Homo sapiens: one gene and its partners. The protein of the gene in region 2 interacts with the protein of the main gene of each other region in a pairwise test. Each region holds a gene or a part of one and is shown on either strand. Other genes may lie near its edges.

Region 1 (7,026 bases), about 110 Mb from region 2:
CCTTTAGTGCATTTTATAATAGGGAAGTATGTTACTCAGCATGCATTGTTGATGCCCTACATATAAATGAATAAGAATAAAAATACATCTTTATAGTACTTATTATTCTACAAACAAGTGATTTTGAAAGTGTTTACAATGAAGTGTACAGCAAGAAATATGACTTAAAAAAGCTTATGTTACAAACAAAAATTGAATTTGCACAACAGAAAAAGCAGAGCTACTTGATATGGGGCCTACATCTTTGTCTGTGATTCAGCCTTATTCCAGTCCCCAGTCGGCTATAGGTTTTCAAGTACCTTTGCAAATGAGAAGTTTGAAACCTATGGTATAGAAGGAAAGGATTTAGGAGGATTCAGAATTAGAATATCTGAATTCTTGTCTCAGGTACACCACTTACAGGCTATGTAACTTTGAGCCTGTATTTTCTCAGAGGGTAATGGTGAAGATTAAATAAAAATAATGTATTTGCAAGCAATACCTGTTATCGCCATTTTGGACTTTCAGTAGCCACTCCCTCCTTTCTTCACCCTGAAGTCATAGCCTTACACAACTTATGCTAAAGAAGCTCGTCATGGGTTAGGGACTAATAACACACAGTAGATGATGAACAGCAACTTACTGATTCCATAAACAGGCTGAGGAAAGTTGTGCTGCCCTTGGCTATACTGATATGAGACATCCATGCCTATGAGCTTTGTATATGTTAAAACTTGAATTTTGTAGGATATACAAGTTTGTGGTTTCTATGTTAGGTACAGAATTTGTAATTTAAAAACTTGCCATACATTCATGTGCTTGCATAGTAAATGGCACAGACTATTTCAACATGAGCTCTGCTTAAAAACCAGTGTTTTAATTGTTTTTCTACAAAATGGAAAACAGGATAACTGACTCATGAAAAAACTTTAGAGCAAAAGCAACTTAATCATCAAGCAAATCCAAGTACAAATGATATCCTAAAAAGAATCCAATGCTTCAAAAGATATATCGAGTTCCCTTTGATTAGAAAGATGACTTAAGATTTGAGTTCATTTTTATTTCTTGTATCTTTTCTAAGGCAAAGGTTGACAAACTATGGCCAGTGAGCCAAATCTGATTCATTGCCTGTGTGTGTAAATAAAGTTTTATTGGTGCACAGCCATGCCCACTTGTTTATGTATTGTCTGTGGTTGTTTTGTGCTACATAGCAGAGTTGAGTAGTTGTGACACAGCCCATATAGCCCACAAAGCCTCAAGTATTATCTGACCCTTCACAGAGAAAGTCTGCCGACTCCTGTTCTAAGGCATCAAAGAACCAGAAGACCTCAATTCATCATAGCTGACCTGAAGGAGGCAGAGGGTGAAACAAACTCGGCATGAAAAACATTTTGAGGCACAGGAGAGGATATAGACAACATCGTCATGTTTATCTCAACTCTTTTAAAATTCTACTTTCTTTTTTTTTTTTTTTTTTCTGAGACAGAGTCTAGCTCTGTCGCCCAGGCTGGAGTACAGTGGCGGATCTCGGCTCACTGCAAACTCTGCCTCCCGGGTTCAAGTGATTCTCTTGCCTCGGCCTCCTAAGTAGCTGGGATTACAGGCATGCGCCACCACGCCCAGCTAATTTTTGTATTTTTAGTAGAGACGGGGTTTCACTGTGTTGGACAGGCTGGTCTCGAACTCCTGACCTTGTGATCTGCCCGCCTCGGCCTCCCAAAGTGCTGGGATTACAAGCATGAGCCACCGCACCTGGCCTAAAACTCTACTTTCAAGTCACATAGGTATCTAGGATTTTGGTTCTTGCAACCTTTTCGATGACATATGAAAAAAATTCCTAAGAGTAAAGTTAATGATATAAAATGTATTTTATTTTATTTTTTGAGACAGAGTTTCAACTCTGTCACCCAGGCTGGAGTGCAGTGGTGCGATCTCCGCTCACTGCAACCTCTGCCTCAGAATCAAGTGATTCTTGTGCCTCAGCCTCCTGAGTACCTGGAATTACAGGCACGTGCCACTATGCCCAACTCATTTTTGTATTTTTAGTAGAGATAGGGGTTTCACCATGTTGGCCAGGCTGGTCTTGAACTTCTGACCTCAAGTGATCCAACTGCCTTGGCCTCCCAAAGTGCTGGGATTACGGGTGTGAGCCACTATGCCCAGTCTAAAATGTATTTTAAATTGCTCACTTGAAGTCAGTAGAAAAAGATCTATTCACAGAATGAACTATATCTTACAACATTCCAAATCTAAAATTATTTAGACATCCACTCACCTGAACAATTGAATGTACACCAACTGTCTGCATAGCTTGGCTTTCATCATCTGAGGTAATAGCAACAAAACTAAACCCCCGAAAAAGCTGATGTGCATTAGCACTAGGTGGAATGCCAGGTGAATCTGAAAAGAGTAAGAAGTGACAAAGAAGATTCATTTGAAAGGAAATTAAGGGAAAAACTGTTGACACTATGACCTTTTTCACTTATTCTGGAATTCTATTTCTCAGGTACACAGTATATACCTCTTGCTTTCCAGGATACCTGTGAGGCACTGTATCAGATCTGTTCTGATTGTGTATTGCCATTACAACACCAACATCCTAGTCCCTCGGAGCCTAGAAAATAGCTAATTCATTTGAAGACTATAATACATCGATGAATTATAGGGTTAATGGTATTCAAAATTAATGCTGTCCCATGGAATTTCCTGAAATGATGGAAATTTTCTTTAACTTTACAGTCTGATAGCCACTAGCTACATGCAGCTTTTCGACATTTGAAACGTGCCTAGCGTGACTGAGAAACTACACTTTAAATTTTAATTAATTTAAATTTAATTAGCCACATGTGGCTACTGGCTACCATATTAGAAACTGCAGCCCTCAATAATAACCTAGTTGGGGTGGAACAGGGGAGATACAAGGTTGATCTACAGCAAATTTAGGAGATGTGAAGATAGCTTAGAGAGTTATCCAGGAAAAGATTTTCTTTTTTTCTTTTTGAGACAGAGTGTCGCTCTGTCACCCAGGCTGGAGTGCAGTGGTGCAATTTTGATGCACTGCAACCTCCACCTCCCAGGTTCAAGCGATTCTCGTGCCTCAGCCACCCAAGTAGCTGGGATTACAGGCACATGCCACCAAACCTGGCTAATTTTGGTATTTTTAGTAGAGACAGCGTTTCACTATGTTGGCCAAGCTGGTCTCCAACTCCTGGCCTCAAGCGATCTGCTCGCCTCAGCCTCCCAAAGTGCTGGGATTACAAGTGTGAGCCACCGCGCCCAGAGTCTGGAAAAGATTTTCTGATGAAACAAGAAAAAAACATATTTGTTGTCTTATATTTGGATTTTCACATTTTCTCCTTACCTTTGGGAGTTTTTGCAGTAAACTCAGGATCAAAATAGAATGTATCTTCAGGCCTGCCCGTTGCAGGTTTAAATGGCGGATGAATTTCTCTTCTATACAGTTTCTGGAGGGGAAAAAAAAAAGAGACTTAGACATATTTTAATTATAAAGAAATATTTCAAGCAAGTTTTCATTCTATACTTACATTCCAGTCTATCGTTGAGAAAAATGAATGTCTTTTAATTTCTTCAACTCCATCTGGTCCTGCACCTATCAAAAATGGATTCACTGATAATTTTATTTCAAGGAGAAATATACATATTGCTCAGCCTTTGTTTTCAATACTTGTCTAATTAATTAATTAATTAATTAATTAATTTTGAGACAAGGGCTTGCTCTGTCACCCAGGCTGGAGCGCAGTGGTGTGATCTCAGTTCACTGCAGCCTCAACCTCTCAGGCTCAAGTGATCCTCCTACCTCAACTTCCTGAGTAGCTGGGACTACAGGCACGCACCACCATGCCTGGCTAATTTTTGTATTTTTTGTAAAGATGAGGTTTTGCCATTTTTCCCAGGCTGGTCTTGAACTCCTGGACTCAAGTAATTCTCCCGCCTTGGTCTCCCAAAGTGCTGGGATTACAGGCGTGAGCCACCAGGCCTAGCCTTGTCTAAATAGTTAATAATTCCACCACAAAACAAATATCTACTCCCCGCTAAAAACAAACACCAACAAACATACAACATAAACAAATTAGTTAAAATTTTTACCTAATCTGTTTGCAGGATTTCGCTTGAAAAGCATTCGTAAAAGACTCTGCGCTTCAGGACTCAAAAACTGTGGCATTCCAAGTTTGGCTCTAAATAATAAATCCACATAATATTTTATTTTTTGGAGGCATCTGTATTTTTATTTTTAAAAATTCTTAAATTAAACTTTTTGAGATACTTGTAGATTCACACTCAGTTGTAAGAAATAATACAGAGAGATCCCCTGTGCCCTTTACCCAGTTTCCCCCAATGGTAACATCTTACAAAACTACAGTACAATATCACATCCAGGATATTGACATGGAGACAATCCAATGATCTCATTCACATGGCACTGGTTTTATTTGCACTTATTTGTGTGTGTGTTTAGTTCTATGCCATTTTATTACATGTATGGCTTCTGTATGAATATGTCACAGTTTATTTATCCATTATCTGTTGAAGGACATTTGGGTTGTGCCCAGTTTGGGGCTAATATGAATAAAGCTACAGTGAACATTTATGTACAGGTTTTCATGTGAACACATAACTGAATTTTAGTTCATAATCTAATAAGCTTTTTCATTTTTCAAAATTTTGCAAAGAGCACTGTGAAAGTAAGATCATTTGAATCCTAGTTCTGGCTCTGTTACTAAGAACTTTGTGACAGTGGGAAAGCCAATTATTCTGGGCCTGTTATCATTTCTTCATAAGCAAAGGGATTGGTCTCTAGACCAATAGCTCCCAAAGTATAGCCTCGGAACTCCTCCTCAAAGGGAATTTAAGAAACCTAACATTTAAAGCTGCTAAGAGAACATGTGTTTCATATGCCACTTTTTCCTTTCTATTCCCTTTAACAGCCCCTGAAGGGAAGGGGAACTGTGGGAAAGAGGATTGTGAAATATTGAAGATACACAGTCTAAAAACTGCTGGCCTAGATGAACTTGAAGGTCTGTTTCAGCTCTAATTTTAATTCTTTTTCCAAACCTACAAATTAAAGAAACCAATGATCCTGTAAGTATGACAATAATAATAGAGCTGGGGAAAATTCCTATTTCAGAAACAGATCCATTTATTATTCAGTGGGTTGTTATTGAGCTATTACATGCCAGACACTGTTTAGTGCTGAGGATACAGAGATAAAGAGAGCCCATGAAACTCATGGTCCATGGTGAAGATGGATACAGATAATGCTAGTACATTAAGAGACAAATGCAGAAGAACATATGCAAAGAGTGACAAGGGAACAGTAGGGGATATTTAATTTAACATGGGAGATTATGAAAGGTCTTCAATGCAATCTAAAGGCTAACAATTTATTCATTTGGCTAGTGTTTCCCCAAATTTTACTGAATAACATTAATCCCTCTAGATAGTTAGCAACAATAAAAAAATTCATGACCCAATGAGCTTGTAGAATGCTATTTATTATATCCCCCTATTAGACACACAGAATTAAAATACACTGCATATAAAAAGGCTGAGAAATCTAGAGCAAACAAATCAGTTTTTTTTTTTTTTTTTTTTAAGACAGAGTATCCAGGCTGGACTGCAGTGGCACAATCTCGGCTCACTGCAATCTCTGCCTTCTGGGTTCAAGGGATTCTCGTGTCTCAGCCTCCCAAGTAGTTGGGATTACAGGTGTGTGCTACCACACCTGGCTTTTTTTTTTTTTTTTTTTTTTTTTGTAGAGATGGAGTTTTGCCATGTTGACTAGGCTGGTTTTGAACTCCTAGCCTCAAGTGATCCTCCCACTTCAGCCTCTCAAAGTGCTGGGATTATGGGTGAAATCAGTATTTTCTAAGTATTTATTTCCAGCACCTCTTTTTCAAAGAATACCTATTAATATCTTGTAGAATTAATATTCTCTTGGACAAATCTGGGGAAACACTATTGTATTAGGTAACAAGGATGCAGCAGAGGTCCTGAAACTGGACTAACATGACTAGACTTATTTTCAAGAAGGTAACTCCAAGGGTAATAGAGAACAATTTGGAGTGGGAAGAGGTCATAAGTGGTAGGCAATCAACTTAGGAATGTGGTCAGATAGTATGGGTAAGAGGTCACTGTTTTCTGAATACTTTAAGCAGTTTAATTCAGAGGAAAGGCTGGAACAGTGAAATAATTCTGAGATCGAATTTGGAGAATACCTAATTATGCAAAAGAGAGAAGGAATAAAAAATGATTTCCTGGTTTCTGGCTTGGAAGAGGGTGCATGAAAATGCTGATAACTGGGAGTATAAGAAAAGAACAGCAAATAAAGATACATTTAGTTCAAAGATGTGAAGTCATGCATGTAATATGTTTTGGGAGGGCCAGGCAGGTGAGTAAATAGAAACACAGGTCTAATGCCTGGTAAATTCATGTAAGAAAGAGTGATTTGAGAGTAATTAAAATGTGGAGGGTAGTTATAGGAAAGACTGAAGTCAGTCAGGAAAGAGTGCAGAGGGGGAAGAAAAGCATATCATAGACGGATCCTGGGGGATAAGACCATTTAAAAGGTAGTCAGAAAAAGAACAATTAGGGCATTAAAAATAATGACTGCAATTGGCTGAATCACACTGATTATTAAATCCCATGAGTTTATTATGTAAAGTAAGAAAAAGCAAAGTCAAAATACAAAAACTCGACTCACTGGATACTACCCCCACTAGGAAGTAACTAGGGCTCTGACATTAGAAACAATTTAAGAAAAGAATTAAGTATTTATTCTCTTTTTCTTGGATGAGCGTTATTTCAAGTAATTAAATCATCATAGTTGATGAGGGAAAGTTTGTTGAGAAAATACCAGCTAATAAATGAGGAAGGAATAATAATAATAATAGAAAATCATGGCTGGTGCATAGTGGCTCATGCCTGTAATCCCAACACTTTGGGAGGCGGAGGTGGGAGGATCACTTGAGCCCAGGAGTTTGAGACCTGCCTGGCAACATAGCAAGATACCATCTGTACAAAAGATTA
Region 2 (7,106 bases):
AGATCTCTCTGTTTCCAGGGCTTTAAGGATTAGGGAAGGGTCCACTCCTTCTCTGGTGTATTTAATACATTAAAGAGGATCCACAGGTTCCTTCCAGTACACATCTTCCATCGTCTATTTGCAACCTATTTCTTCTTTTTATATTGTCTTCAATAAATCCAACATTCTCCCTACTGCTCTCTTCTACTAGTAGAGTGGGTCCCATAATTCCTTTTTCCCACAACAGAATTAGAGCAAAATCCTGAGTGAATAAAATGTTCTTGTTCTCAGCACAACATGCAGAGTCCCCCTTCTATGTTTTTCTACCTGCCTATTTTAAAAAGGTAATGTATTTTTTTTTGGTCAATCTTAGTTTGCTTTTCATTTTGTGAACAATATATTCTCTCCTACCTCAAATGACCCAAAAGCTGCATTCATTTAGAGTTAATCAGCTTAGGTATTGGTTAGTAGTGGCCAGAACAGTAGTTTAGGAGTCAGGAAACAGAGCTTCCTAGTACTGGCTCTGCCACTAAACGTCATTTTGGAGATTTATGGGCCTCAGTTTCCTCATATGTTAAACAAGGAGGGTAAAGCTGGTCTCTGAATCCCTTCCTGATAGTCTATGGTACTGTGAATTACAACTATCAATTAGTATGATGCAACAAAAGGTGAAGAGCAAAGTTAGTAACATATGTAGTGAATGCATTTTTCAGACATTTTTACGGTATCTAGAAAACCTTATAATACTGAAATGTGAAATCCAACATCTCATTTTAAAAGTCTAGTTTAAGAAGTAAGATTTAGGCCAGGCGCAGTGGCTCACGCCTGTAATCCCAACACTTTGGGAGGCCAAGGTGGGCGGATCACAAGGTCAGGAGATCAAGACCATCCTGGCTAACACGGTGAAACCCCGTCTCTACTAAAAATACAAAAAATTAGGTGGGCGTGGTGGCGGGTGCCTGAAGTCCCAGCTACTCGGGAGTCTGAGGCAGGAGAATCGCTTGAACCCGGGAGGCAGAGGTTGCAGTGAGCCGAGATCATGCCACTGCACTCCAGCCTGGGCGACACAGTGAGACTCCGTCTTAAAAAAAAAAAAAAAAGGAAACAAGATTTAGTAATCCCAGATCTTCAGAAATACAGTTAACCATCATTTAGTGTAGTGTTTCTAAATCCTTTTTTCATTATTGACCCTCTAAAAAGCCTTTTTAGACATTTTTCCCCTAATTGCTCCCCCTTCGTGAAATTTTAATAACACATATATAGTATATATCTGTGTACATACTGTATGTATATCTGCGCTTTATACATAAAAAGAGTAAAAATTTTTCACACTCCCCCAAGAACTATTTTCTCTTCCCCTTGGGGGAAGTATCACCCAGTGAGAATGTGTAATTTAGGAGATCAAGCTTCTGTGGTACCAAAACTTTCTGCTCCAATAAAAAATAGGTGTAGGCCAGGAGCAGTGGCTCACGTCTGTAATACCAGCACTTTGGGAGGCTGAGGCAGGCGGATCCCCTGAGGCCAGGAGTTCGAGACCAGCCTGGCCAACATGGTGAAACCCTGTCTCTACTAAAAATACAAAAAATTAGGCCGGGCACGGTGGCTTACGCCTGTAATCCCAGCACTTTGGGAGGCCGAGGCGGGCGGATCACGAGGTCAGGAGATCAAGACCATCCTGACTAACACGGTGAAACCCTGTCTCTACTAAAAATACAAAAAATTAGCCGGGAGTGTTGGTGGGCGCCTGTAGTCCCAGCTACTTGGGAGGCTGAGTCAGGAGAATGGCGTGAACCCGGGAGGTGGAGCTTGCAGTGAGCCGAGATCACGCCACTGCACTCCAGCCTGGGCGACAGAGTGAGACTCCGTCTCAAAAATAAATAAACAAATAAATAAAAAATAAAAATACAAAAAATTACCAGGTGTGGTGGTGGGCGCCTGTAATCCTAGCTACTAGGGAGGCTGAGGCATGAGAATTGCTTGAAGCCAGGAGGCGGAGGTTACAGTAAGCTGAGATCGTGCCAATGCACTCCAGCCTGGGCGACAGAGCAAGACTCCGTCTCAAAAAAAGACAAAAAAAAAAATGTAAAAAAGTCCAAAGCTTATTTGCTTGACAACCATTTCCATTCAAGCGGCTGGAGGTGAAGGTCAGAGGTGACAAAGCAGCTGAAATGACAAATATTACAGTCATGGCAGAAGATCTGGAGGTGAGTGGGGGAGGATACTAAGTTTCTTCAAAGGAGTGGGTAAGAAATGGGTTGAAGTTAGAAAAAAGCCGTGCTCCACACCAACTGGCTGCTACTTTCGGGTCCGAGTGGACTATCAGGGGAGGATGTTCAGATTCAGATGTTTGTCAACCTCAGGGTGGGTGCGCGCTCCCCCTCAGGTCAGCCCGTCCCACTACCCCCACCCAAGGTTGAGGGTGGGATCTCCGGACACCAGGAACAAGGGAGTTACCTGCAGAACCTCAACAAATAAAGGGACGGGAATTCTATAGGAAATCACTTTCCCGAACACCTCCTCCCCACCGCTTGCCTCCTCCAGTATCTCAACCCGGCTCACCCAAGTCCATTGATCAAAGGGGCACTGTTGACTCTTCTCAGAATGTTGCCGTCTGCGGTAGTGGAACTCGGCAGCGACTTGAAACCTAGTTTCATTTTCTCCTGTGCCATGTCCGGGTCGAGGAATAAGTTCTCAAGGCTTTCCGGCTCCCGTCCACACAAGGACAAGTCTACTTAGTGGGCAGGTGATGTAAGGAGAGAGGCAAAGGGGAAAAAGAGAAGAGAGGAGAAAGCTCTTAGGCGAGTAGGGGTGCCCACCTTTGCAGCCCTAGCAGCCCTAACATCAGTGAACACAAAGTTAGGCAGAACTGGCTCCGAACCGCCTATCTCCCATGATCGGGGCCTCTAACGATGAGAAGATCCCCCACCTCCAAGTCTATAATGTAACTGGGGAATTTAATCTGTCACCGCCGCGAATCCTTCTCCATCTCTCTCAGCCCTGGCAACTCATGGTAAGCCTTTCCGGCCAAAACAAAAACTACAATCTGCCGCCTTTGACAATCAGTTGGGTCCCGCCCCTCAGAGCCTGCGATAAGCTATCAGCCGGACGACGCCTGTTGTGATGCAGGCAATGACGTCACTTCAGGCGCCTTAGTCAGCTTTGCCAGGGGCGCACGCGCAGTTAAGAAACCGCTTTATCCCCATGTCCTGCCCTCCTTCCTCTTTCCCCAATGCCCACTTACCGTGGTTGTGCCTCTACTCTTTTACTAACCCTGGCATGGTTTCCTTAAGCATTATTTAGAAATGAAAGCGTTGGGAGGAGTGAGGTCCTTCCTGCCCTATGCCTAATTCTCATTTTTCTTATCCCTTTATGACTGAGGCCAACAAGCTTCTAACCTCCTATGATGCATTTTTCCATCCTGTAACAGCAGACACACTACACCTTTGTAATTTTAGAAAAGCAAAAGTCTGAAAAAAAAAAAAAAAAAAAGATACTGCTACCTAAGTGCTTAGAGGCCACTTGGTCCCAAAGGGTCTTGCTAAGGTGCTAACCTAACTGAGCTCATTTGGCAAACGAATTACTGTTTTCAGTGTGGTTTCTTTCTTTCTTTTTTAAACCATAATCGTACAGTTTTTTGTTTTTTTTTTTTTGAGATGGAATTTCGCTCTTGTTGCTCAGGCTGGAGTGCAGTGGCCGCGATCTCGGCTCACTGCAACCTCCACCTCCCAGGTTCAAGCGATTCTCCTGCCTCAGCCTCCCGAGTAGCTGGGATTACAGGTGCTCGCCACCACGCCTGGTTAATTTTTGTATTTTAGTAGAGACGGGGTTTCACCATGTTGGCCAGGCTGGTCTCGAACTCCTGGACCTCAGGTGATCCGCCCGCCTCGTCCTCCCAAAGTGCTGGGATTACAGGCGTGAGCCACCGCGCCTGCCTCAGTGTGTATTTTTACATTATATATAATCTGGCTCCTCACAGCTATTCATATAAAAAATAAAGACCTCAGCTAATTTACAAAGATTTGAGTTAAAGCAGTGAGGCTTTTTTAAAAACAAATATCTCAGAATTTAGTATCAATGCAAATCAGTGTTTTCATTTCAGGTAGTATTAGAAGCTACATACATTCTAAGAATGCTGCCATGGCTCATATCGTTTTAAGAACTACTCTTTTAGAAATTTTCACCATCACTTAATGAGCCACACTGAGTACTGAAATCTTAACTCCATGCTAATAATTTTGTAAAACCACACATTTTAGTAACCATATAGAGAACTGGCAGACAAGGCAAATAAACCTAGTGAAATGGGAGTTATTAATTAAAATAGTCATAACACTGGTATAGCACTTTACGGATAACATTTTTTTTTTTTTGAGACGGAGTTTCGCTCTTGTTGCCCAGGCTGGAGTGCAATGGCGCAATCTTGGCTCACCACAACCTCCACCTCCCTGGTTCAAGCGATTCTCCTGACTCAGCCTCCAGAGTAGCTGGGATTACAGGCATGTGCCACCACTCCCAGCTAATTTTGTATTTTTAGTAGAGATGGGGTTTCTCCATGTTGGTCAGGCTGGTCTCGAACTCCCGACCTCAGGTGATCCACCCGCCTCGGCCTCCCAAAGTGCTGGGATTACAGGTATGAGCCTCCACGCCTGGCCTACAAAATGTTTTCACATACTTATCTGGATTGGTTCAATCATCAACCCTGCTCAGCTACCCAGTGGTGAACTTAAAATAATGGGACAGTCTTGAGATAGTTCGTGACAAGTTATGACATGTAAGGTAATAAATATGTATTCTTTGTTCATTCTGGGAATAGAATAAGACAAACTTGAGTATATTAGGCAGAATTAGATTACTTAAATCCCAGACATGAGGATGATGTGGAGTCTCCATTCCTTATATAAGACAGATTAGTAATAGCTACCGTTTGTTGGGCACTTACTATGTGCCAGGTACTGTCCTAATCACTTTAAATAGGTGATTGCATTTAAAGTTTACAATAATTCTTTGAGGTAGGCACCATCACAATGCCCATTTTTCACAGGAGGAAACCAAAGCCCAGAGGGGTTTACTCAAGTTGCAACTACTAAGTGGCAAAGCCAAGATTCCTCTGCCCTTCTGTTTAAGTAAAAAAAAAAATGAGATGCCTCAGAATATCTCCTTGAATTTCTGTACTCATAAGCACTTGATAAATACTTCTGAAATTATTTTATGAATAAATGCAGGTTTAAATAGCCTATCTTTCATAGTTATCTTGTAAAGTAGGTAAATCATTTCTATTTTACAGTTGGATAAAATTCCAAAGAGATTAATGGCACATAATTAGATAGCAGGAGAATTCAGGCTAGTATCAAGATGTCCTAAAAGCCACTGTTAAAATTCCCAGGGTACCTGAACGTTTATAAAAGATGGTGGTTAAAGCTGAGTAAATTCAGGATGAATGCAGAAGGCAGTGATTAAAGACAGAACAGAGTCAAAAAACAAATTGTCTGAATAACAGAAAAATATGAAGCAGGCCAGTGAACAAGGGAATCTTACCTCCATTGTGTTCATTTTAATTTTCAACTTTTGCTAGTATTCTTGGCAGGTAGTAAGGTTTCATACGTATATTTTGAATAAATAGACAAAATTTCATCCTGCCTAAGCATTACAAGTATCTAATTTTTAAATAAGTACAACAACACTAAGAAAATAGGTATAATAAAATGACAAGGGAAGAGTGACTAAGGGACTATGTTTCTAAGAAAAGGAGTAATATGAAATAACTAAATATATGAGATGGTAATAAGTTTACAGCTATTATCAAAGAGAAGGAGCTCTCTTTTACAAAAGAACAGCTACATGTCAGGAACCCCAAACCTGTAAAGATATAAATAGGACTCATAGTACATACACAAATTGGAATATCAAAAGGAACAAGTAATACAAAAACAGCAAGAATTCTATATGCTACAATGGCAAACACAACATTAAAGAAATTGTTTTTACTTCTCCCCATTTCTACGCACACATTATTATACCAACCTAGCTGTGTTTCTTGATCAGTCCTTCCAGTTCCAGGGAAATATGCCATGATCTTGGGACACTGCTTTTGTTAGATCTAGACTTGACAATTAGGCTACTCCTCTCTTTGCATATCCCAGTCTGCTGCGTCTGTCCCAGGCCCTCACCTATAAAAGGGAACCAACAAACATGTGATAATCAGCTCTTTATTTTACCAGTTGTCATGACAACCTTGAAGCTACGTTGTAACCTTTAGTTACCACAAGAGCAAGTCAAATACAAGTCAAACCCAAATCTACAAACCACAAACACCCCAAACCTTCCCAAAAGATTTACATGAAAGGTTAAAAAAAAAAAAAAAACTAGCAGGCAAGAATGATGTTAATAAAACCTAGAAATGATGGCCAAAGTAGCATTATTCTCCTCGCGTTCTCCTAAATTGTTAAGCTCCTGAGGTCAGTGCATGCATGTGGTCAACAAATGATTGTTTAGTAGCTATTGTGAACAAAAGAATGTATTATAATTTCTTTTGAGCAGGGAGTAGGAGGTGGGGCTGGCCTTAAGGGTTGCTGAGACCTTGAGATAAAAAGAGATACCTAAGTTGCTCAAAAACAGAGGTTGTTGTTTCTAATCTAGCTGGGAGAAAAATACAGGCAATTTAAAGGAAACTATCTAAAAGTACTTACAAATCCCTCATACTGCAGGCAGAAAGCATAAACAGTGAGGAATAAAATGATAATTGGCCTTGGCAAGTTTAGTATGGGATAATTGAAAAGAGGCAGGCAAAATTATTATTTCTGGCTGAATTTTGAAAGCAATTTCAGAACTATTACATTTCAATGCAATGGCCTTCTCTTCCCCAGGGCCATTCAAGTGGTGAGGATTAAAAGAGTTTGTGGAGTCCTGATAAGATAAGTAAGAAACAATGAGAAAGGGGCCCCAGGTGGGGAAGAACAATGAAAAATTGTTCTGAGAGACCTAGGGCACAAAGACCTCCTTCCACATGTGGCCCCAGCAGCATGACTTGTTTCCACATGCAGCCCCCTCCAGCTCCCTCCAGCCCCTGCCTCTTTGCAGACAGCTCCTCCTCTGCAGTGCTGCCCTTTGCCTCCTTGCAACATACTTCC
Region 3 (7,026 bases), on a different chromosome or scaffold from region 2:
TACCCAGCAATAATAATTTTTTAAGTGAAAAAAAAGTAATGGTAAAAATTGGAAGTAAACAAAGTAAAAGGTCCCTTCACAATACCTCTTCACTGCTCTACCTAATGCTACATTTACAGACAAATAGAAGGCTTATAATTAGCCAGGAGCTATTAATATTTGAGTCTAAGGAAATGTTGATTAAGTATATGTTAATTTGATTTAATTACTTCACAGACTGATTTTTTTTTTTTTTTCAGGTTCGATCTGGGGCTAATGTTCTAATTTGTGGTCCAAATGGCTGCGGAAAGAGTTCACTTTTCCGTGTTCTTGGTGAAGTAAGTACAAGTTGGCCTCAAAATTTTGCAGTCTTATTTTGCCATACTGTCTACCACTTTGTAAATTTTACAATTGTTCTTCTCCCTTCTCTCTCTTTAATAGTTATGGCCTCTTTTTGGAGGACGTCTAACTAAACCTGAAAGAGGAAAATTATTTTATGTTCCTCAGGTAAGACCTAGCTTGAGTTATCTTTGATCTAAAGATCTTTTTGTTTATTTATTTTTTCATGTTGCTTCTAATTGACTTTTGCTCTACTACTGTCAGAGACCTTACATGACCCTTGGAACACTTCGAGATCAAGTGATATATCCAGATGGACGAGAAGATCAGAAAAGGAAGGGAATTTCTGACCTAGTAAGGGAATGTTTATATCCTAGATCCACTGAAAATACTCCAGATTATTTATTTTAATCAATTAAGTATTTTAAATGCCAGGTAGTTTATCTTAAGCTGTAAAGCCTTCCAAAGCTGTAAATTGTGATTTTCTAAGCTGAGGTAAGATGTTAATCCCTTGGCTTAAAAAGAGTTTAATCTTAACCTTTACACCATTGTTTGTTTTCTCATTGCCATCATCCTTTTACTGTGTACAATAGTGTTATTCTCTTTAAGCTACTAGACATATTTTGTCAAGTTTGGTGTAGATACTAGGAGCTGAAAGGTTCAGGGCTACCTTGTGCCACATTCTTTTCTGAAATGTATCTTTTAAGTGGTACAGACAATAGAATTATAGTGATTCCAGTTTAAAAAATAAACCACTATTAAGAATGTTGGCTTATATTAAGTTTAATTTCATCTTTAATCATTTTGCTGAAAGGTACTGAAGGAATACTTAGACAATGTCCAGTTGGGTCATATCCTTGAACGTGAAGGAGGCTGGGACAGTGTTCAGGATTGGATGGACGTACTCAGTGGTGGAGAAAAGCAAAGAATGGCGGTAAGTATACTGTGAAGAAGTTGCACAAGAATGCAACTGGTTCCAGCATTTTGATTAATCAGGACACAAAGTTTCATCTTATATTTTTTTATTCAGCAGCTGTTTCAGTATGGATTAGTTTAAATTATCATAAAAGTGCTTGAAAATCTTTAACTTGCATGTAAATTTGGAATTCTGAAAAATTCATAAATACCCTGCCAGTATCTATGAAAGGAAAAGCTGCAGATCCGACTATATACCAATAATCCATTTTTCTAAAAGTTCAGAGAAACTCTGTAGCTCATTATTCCTGGGATATAAGGTAATCCTGGCTGGGTTATGAAATTTCTTCTCATGTCTCTTCCCTATAGACATCTCTTTTGTATCACTCAGGCTATTCTTTCTGAAATAGCTGAAGGTATTAGAAACGATCCATTCAAATTTTATCTTTATTCTGTTCTTGCCCTTTTCCTCCACTATTATATGTATGTTTTTGTTTCAAGGTTCAGTATCTACTACTTAAAGTTACTTAGAATTTTTAAGTTTTCCTAATATAAACAAGCATTTGAAAGAAACTACTTTAATTGTTATGATGACTAAACTTGTCTCAAACCAAAAATATGCGCTAAACACTACGTAGTAAGAATGAGACCAGCCTGGGCAACATAGCAAGACCCTTTCTCTACAAAAAAAAATTTAAAAATTATCTGGGCGTAGTGGCACACACCTATAGTCCTAGCTACTGGGAGGCGGAAAGATTGCTTGAGCCCAGGAGTTTGAGGCTGCATTGGGCTGTGATCACACACCGTGGCACTCCAGGCTGGGCGATAGAAGGAGATCGTCTCTCTAAAAATAAATAAATAAATAAAAATTTAAAAAGAACGGTAGTTTGGGTACCTTGTCAAGAGGGGCAACTTCATAAAGAGTCATTTTTTAACTATATATTTCATAGTTTGAATAGATCCAAGCAAGAGATTCTCCTCTCCCCCTGCAGAGTATGGAGATTAGAGAAAACTGTAGCTAAGGAAAGAAAGCAAAAGAAATTGGCTTATGGCAGAATTTCTGACCCATTATATTCAGGTTATATTCCACCTTTTTGTTACCTCCGAGTCCCTGATTTTGCAAGTTGTTTTTCCCAAAATCATACCCACTCTACATGAGGTTAATATTAACCTAATAGTGTGACTTGCCTGGCTAGTGCTATAACGTGAGATGAATCTAGTGTGAAGAGTAAATCATAAATGAGAGAGATAATAGCTATATTCAAAATGGAAATTAGGCTGAAGGAGTGAAAATTTGAAATGATTAGGCATTTCTAGAGTCAATTTAGAAGATGACTATAGAAATAACTGCAAAAAAGAGCTGCAAAATAACTTTAAATTTCTGTACTATGTCTTCAGAGAAAATGGAAGGATGTGGTTCAGAAATGGACACGACGGAAACTCAGAGAATGAATAATGAATGTACTTAAACCAAGGAACAGTGTGTGTGTGGTATAAAAGTACAGGAGGGATAATTTTGATTTGAAGATTAGGAATTCAAAGGCGTGCCCAGAGCAGTGGGGGGCTGAGGCGGGAGAATCACTTCAACCCGGGAGGCATAGGCTGCAGTGAGCCAAGATCATGCCACTACACTCTAGCCAGGGCAACAGAGCAAGACTCTGTCTCAAAAGAAAAAAAAAAAAAAAAAAACACATGATCCATAATAGAGGCGTTTGGGAAATGGGGAAAGCTCACCTGTGACACCACTGCATATATAACTGGAGCATGGCCAAGCCATTGTCTAGAGAATTGAATGTGATGTGTAAAAGAGAGCCTGTTGTTTTGTTTCAGAGGGTGGAAAGGAGAAGGCTAACGCTACAAATACTAACGTTGGTGAAATTAGGTAAAGATTATATATGTGTATTCATTTTACTGTCCTTTCAGTTTTTTGGTAGGATTGAAAATTACCAAAGTAGAAAGTTGAGGGGAAAGTAGGTATTAGAATTTTTAGGAAGAACAGACCTAAAAGGCCTAGCCACTTAGAACAGTGAGTCAGCCAGGGTTGCTCCAGCTAATGTCACAATTTGGGATATCTTGTGTTTCTGACCAAAAGTTATCTTTTCCACTCCATTTTTCTTGCTCTTCCTATTTAGTAATAACTTTTCTTATTTTGAATTATGAAAAAGTATATATGATGGAAAAGTGGAATATTTATTTAAGTATAAATTGGGCCAAACCCCTTTACCAGAGATACCACTGTTATAAAATTTTTAGTGTTTTTTTAATCCATTTTTGTAAATCTTTTTTTTTTTTACCTTAAATTAGCAACTATCCCCCTTTCTCAAATTCCCTGAGATCTCTAGAATATTAATCCTTCCCTTTCCTTACAATTGTTCAGTCCTTTTCTGTCTCTGCCTCCTTTCCTGTCCAGTACAGACTTCATAATCCAGGGTGTGGCCCATAGGAGATAAGATATATTTCTTAAGGAATGAACAGTTCATCCCTTCCCCTTAACTTCCTTTCCCACTTTTTGTGTCATCGTATTACCTAAATCCCAGCCCAGTTATTTGCCTTGGCACTTCTCTAACCGCTCTTCTGAGCACAGCTAAAAAACATCAGATGGGCTCACAGCATGGCTTAGCAATCATTTTACTTATTTTTATCCTTCTCTCATTTTTCATGACAATCATTTTAAAACTACCAATTTTGGGTTTTCTACCCCGTTACTTAACCCACTGCACTTGGCAGAATAACTCGCCTTCTACTTTTCAAAGAAAGATAGGCTATTATTTCAATTAAATGACAGCTAATTTTTATTGAGTGCTGAAAAGATGACAGACAGTATGTCAGGCACCTTACACAGGTGATCTCATTTCATCCTCACAACAGTCCTGTGAGGTAAGAACTGGGAATGCCCCCCTAGTTTTTTTTTTTTTTTTTGAGACAGAGTCTCATTCTGTCGCCCAGGCCGGAGTGCAGTGGCACAATCTCAGCTTACCGTAATCTCTGCCTCCCAGGTTCAAGAGATTCTCCTGCCTCAGCCTCCCAAGTAGCTGGGATTACAGGCATGCACCACCACGCCTGGCTAATTTTTGTATTTTTTTTTGTAGAGATGGGGTTTCACCATGTTGGCCAGGCTGGTCTCGAGCTCCTGACCTCAAGTGATCCACCTGCTTCGACCTCCCAATGTGCTGGGATTTCATGCGTGAGCCGCCGCGCCCCATTTTACAGAGGAAATTGAACTTTTGTGCAATTCAGTAGCTGGCCAAGCAAAGACAGCTAGTAAATGTTAAAGCTGGTGGTGGGGGCTTTGTCAGGCTTAGGCAAGCAGTATGGCTGCAGTGTGCATATGCTTATTCACTTTACAACAAGCTTGTCCAACCTGTGGCTCACGGACACATGCAGCCCAGGACAGCTTTGAATGCAACCTAACACAAATTCATAAACTTTCTTAAAATCTTATGAGATTTTTTTGTGTGTGTAATTTTTTTTAAGCTCATCAGATATCGTTAGTGGTAGTGTATTTTATGTGTGGCCCAAGACAATTCTTATTCTTCCAGTGTGGCCCAGGGAAACCAAAAAATTGGACACTCCTGCTTTACAACTTTCTTGTATTGTGGCATTAAGTAGCTGACAGCATAGTGGGAGCGAGAGAGACACATGTTGAGAAAATGTCCATGTCATGTAGTAAGTGTGGTGATGAATGTACGCAGAGAGTCCTTTGGGAGCAGAGAGGAGAGGCATTGGTGGAATGCCCTCAGATAACCATTCCTCTTAATTAACTGTGTGCTGCTCTGTCCTGACCTCCCTACTTCCGCTGTCTTGGAGGATATGTCATCCTTCTTGAGAAAGGCAAATACTTCCATCTATGTTTATGGAGCCTCTGTCTTCTGACTTTATCACATCCTTTTCCTTCAGTTATATCCCCTCCCGCAGCCCCCACCTACATTTAACCTCTTCTAGTCCTTCTCTTGTGGAAAGACATTTTTCAGGTCTCTTTGATCTAAAAAGCAAACTCTGCCTTAGCCAAAGCTTCTCTGTGATCTGTACCTTTCATTTTCTGCACAGTTGAACTTCTTCATAGTCTATACTTGCTGCCTCCCCTTCCTCACTTCATGCAAACAGGTGGAAAGCTGTTTTAGTCATTCATTTATTAGATAGTTGAATGCTACCCATATATAAGTGTCAAGTACATGGTAGTGATTAAAACAGTCTCTGCTTTTCTGAATTTTTTTTTTTTTTTTGAGGCAGTCTCACTGTTTCACCTAGGCTGGAGTGCAGTGGCACAATCTTGGCTCACTGCAACCTTCACCTCTCAGGTACAAGTGATTCTTTTTTTTTTTTTTTTTTTTTTTTGAGACAAAGTCTCACTCTGTTGCCGAAGCTGGAGTACACTGGCACGATCTCAGCTTACTATAACCTCCACCTCCTGGGTTCAAGCGATTCTCCTGCCTCAGCCTCCTGAGTAGCTGGGACTACAGGCACGCATCACCATGCCCAGCTAATTTTTGTATTTTTAGTAGAGACAGGGTTTCACTATGTTGGCCAGGCTTGTCTTGAACTCCTAACCTTGTGATCTGCCTGCCTCAGCCTCCCAAAGTGCTGGGATTACAGGCGTGAGCTGCTGCGCCCGGCCAGGTACAAGCAATTCTTGTTCCTCAGCCTCCCAGGTAGCTGGGACTACAGGTATGCACCACCATGACTGGCTAATTTTTGTATTTTTAGTAGATACGAGGTTTCACCATGTTGGCCAGGCTAGTCTCGAACTCCTAGCCTCAAGTGATCTGCCCTCCTCAGCCCCACAAAGTGCTGGGATTATATATGAAGTGCTTCAGAGGTGTTACAGAAAGGACCCACTTGGATTGTGGCTAGGGATGAGGGTAGGTTTGCCTGAGATGACATTATAAGCAGAAATCTGAAAGCTCTAAGGAACAGAATAAGGCATTTGAGACATCAGAAAAGAATGATGTGTGTTTAAGGCTCTAAGGTGTAAAGCACCTTGTTCCTAGCAGTTGAGAGGAGGCGGTGTTGGCTAGAATGTTGGGGTTAGAGCGTGAGTAGAAATAAGATTGTGCAGGTCTTGTAGACTGTGGTAAGGAGTTTGAGTTTTAAGTGAAATGGGAAGTTGTTGAAGGGTTTTAAGCCAGAGAGTGAAGTTCCCTGATTGACATTTGTGAAAGATGTTCTCTGGTTACATGGAGAGTGGACTGGAGAGGAGCAGCAGAAGTGGTAGGAGGCTACTTGTAGTCTATCCAGACAGGAGATGAGTGTGCTCTGGGCTAAGGGCATGTTTGTGGAGATGAGGAAAAGTGAGTGAACTTGAAACTTCACATTTCTTTCTTGAATGGACTTTTTAGTTCATTTTAAAAATAGCTGTGGGAGAGTGAAAGGGAAGAGGAAAAGGGAAGGACCAGACCAGGGAGGACTCCTGGCTTTCTAGCTGGAGCAACTGTTTGATAGTTTCATTTGCTGAAGTGTTCAAGATTAGGGAAGGGAATGGATTTTAGAGGGAAAATCTAGAAATTACATTTGAGTTTTAGACTTTTAACGTTTGAGAGTCCTGTGAGATACCCAAGTAGAAACTCAAAGAGGAATTTTTATTTTTAATTTTTTAAATGTTTTAAATTTAAAATGTTTGTTTTTTGAGATAGCGTCTTGCTGTTTCAGCCAGGCTGGAGTGCAGTGGCCTGATCATAGCTCACTACAGCCTTGAGCCTTGACCTACTGGGCTCAAGCCCTCCTGTCTTAGCCTCCTGAGTAGTTGGAACCACAGATGAACACCACCATGCTTGGCTAATTTTTTTTTTTTTTTTT

The links. The genes of interacting proteins can lie anywhere in the genome.
Region 1: the proteins of PABIR3 (region 2) and RPS6KA3 interact in binary tests that used the Homo sapiens proteins (3 or more experiments, as listed by UniProt).
Region 3: the proteins of PABIR3 (region 2) and ABCD3 interact in binary tests that used the Homo sapiens proteins (3 or more experiments, as listed by UniProt).

The regions. Positions count from the first base shown.
Region 1 is NC_000023.11:20,172,910-20,179,935, forward strand, and holds part of RPS6KA3 (ribosomal protein S6 kinase alpha-3), read right to left. Parts: intron 4,176-7,026; coding exon 4,087-4,175; intron 3,608-4,086; coding exon of another isoform or gene 3,590-3,607; coding exon 3,525-3,589; intron 3,444-3,524; coding exon 3,341-3,443; intron 2,380-3,340; coding exon 2,255-2,379; intron 1-2,254. UniProt on the Homo sapiens protein: Serine/threonine-protein kinase that acts downstream of ERK (MAPK1/ERK2 and MAPK3/ERK1) signaling and mediates mitogenic and stress-induced activation of the transcription factors CREB1, ETV1/ER81 and NR4A1/NUR77, regulates translation through RPS6 and EIF4B phosphorylation, and mediates cellular proliferation, survival, and differentiation by modulating mTOR signaling and repressing pro-apoptotic function of BAD and DAPK1.
Region 2 is NC_000023.11:134,803,141-134,810,246, reverse strand, and holds the start of PABIR3 (PABIR family member 1), read right to left. Parts: upstream 3,011-7,106; 5' UTR 2,906-3,010; exon of another isoform or gene 2,708-2,905; coding exon of another isoform or gene 2,649-2,707; coding exon 2,539-2,648; intron 1,061-2,538; coding exon of another isoform or gene 874-1,060; exon of another isoform or gene 1-873.
Region 3 is NC_000001.11:94,498,363-94,505,388, forward strand, and holds part of ABCD3 (ATP-binding cassette sub-family D member 3), read left to right. Parts: intron 1-239; coding exon 240-317; intron 318-420; coding exon 421-486; intron 487-582; coding exon 583-672; intron 673-1,132; coding exon 1,133-1,252; intron 1,253-7,026. UniProt on the Homo sapiens protein: Broad substrate specificity ATP-dependent transporter of the ATP-binding cassette (ABC) family that catalyzes the transport of long-chain fatty acids (LCFA)-CoA, dicarboxylic acids-CoA, long-branched-chain fatty acids-CoA and bile acids from the cytosol to the peroxisome lumen for beta-oxydation.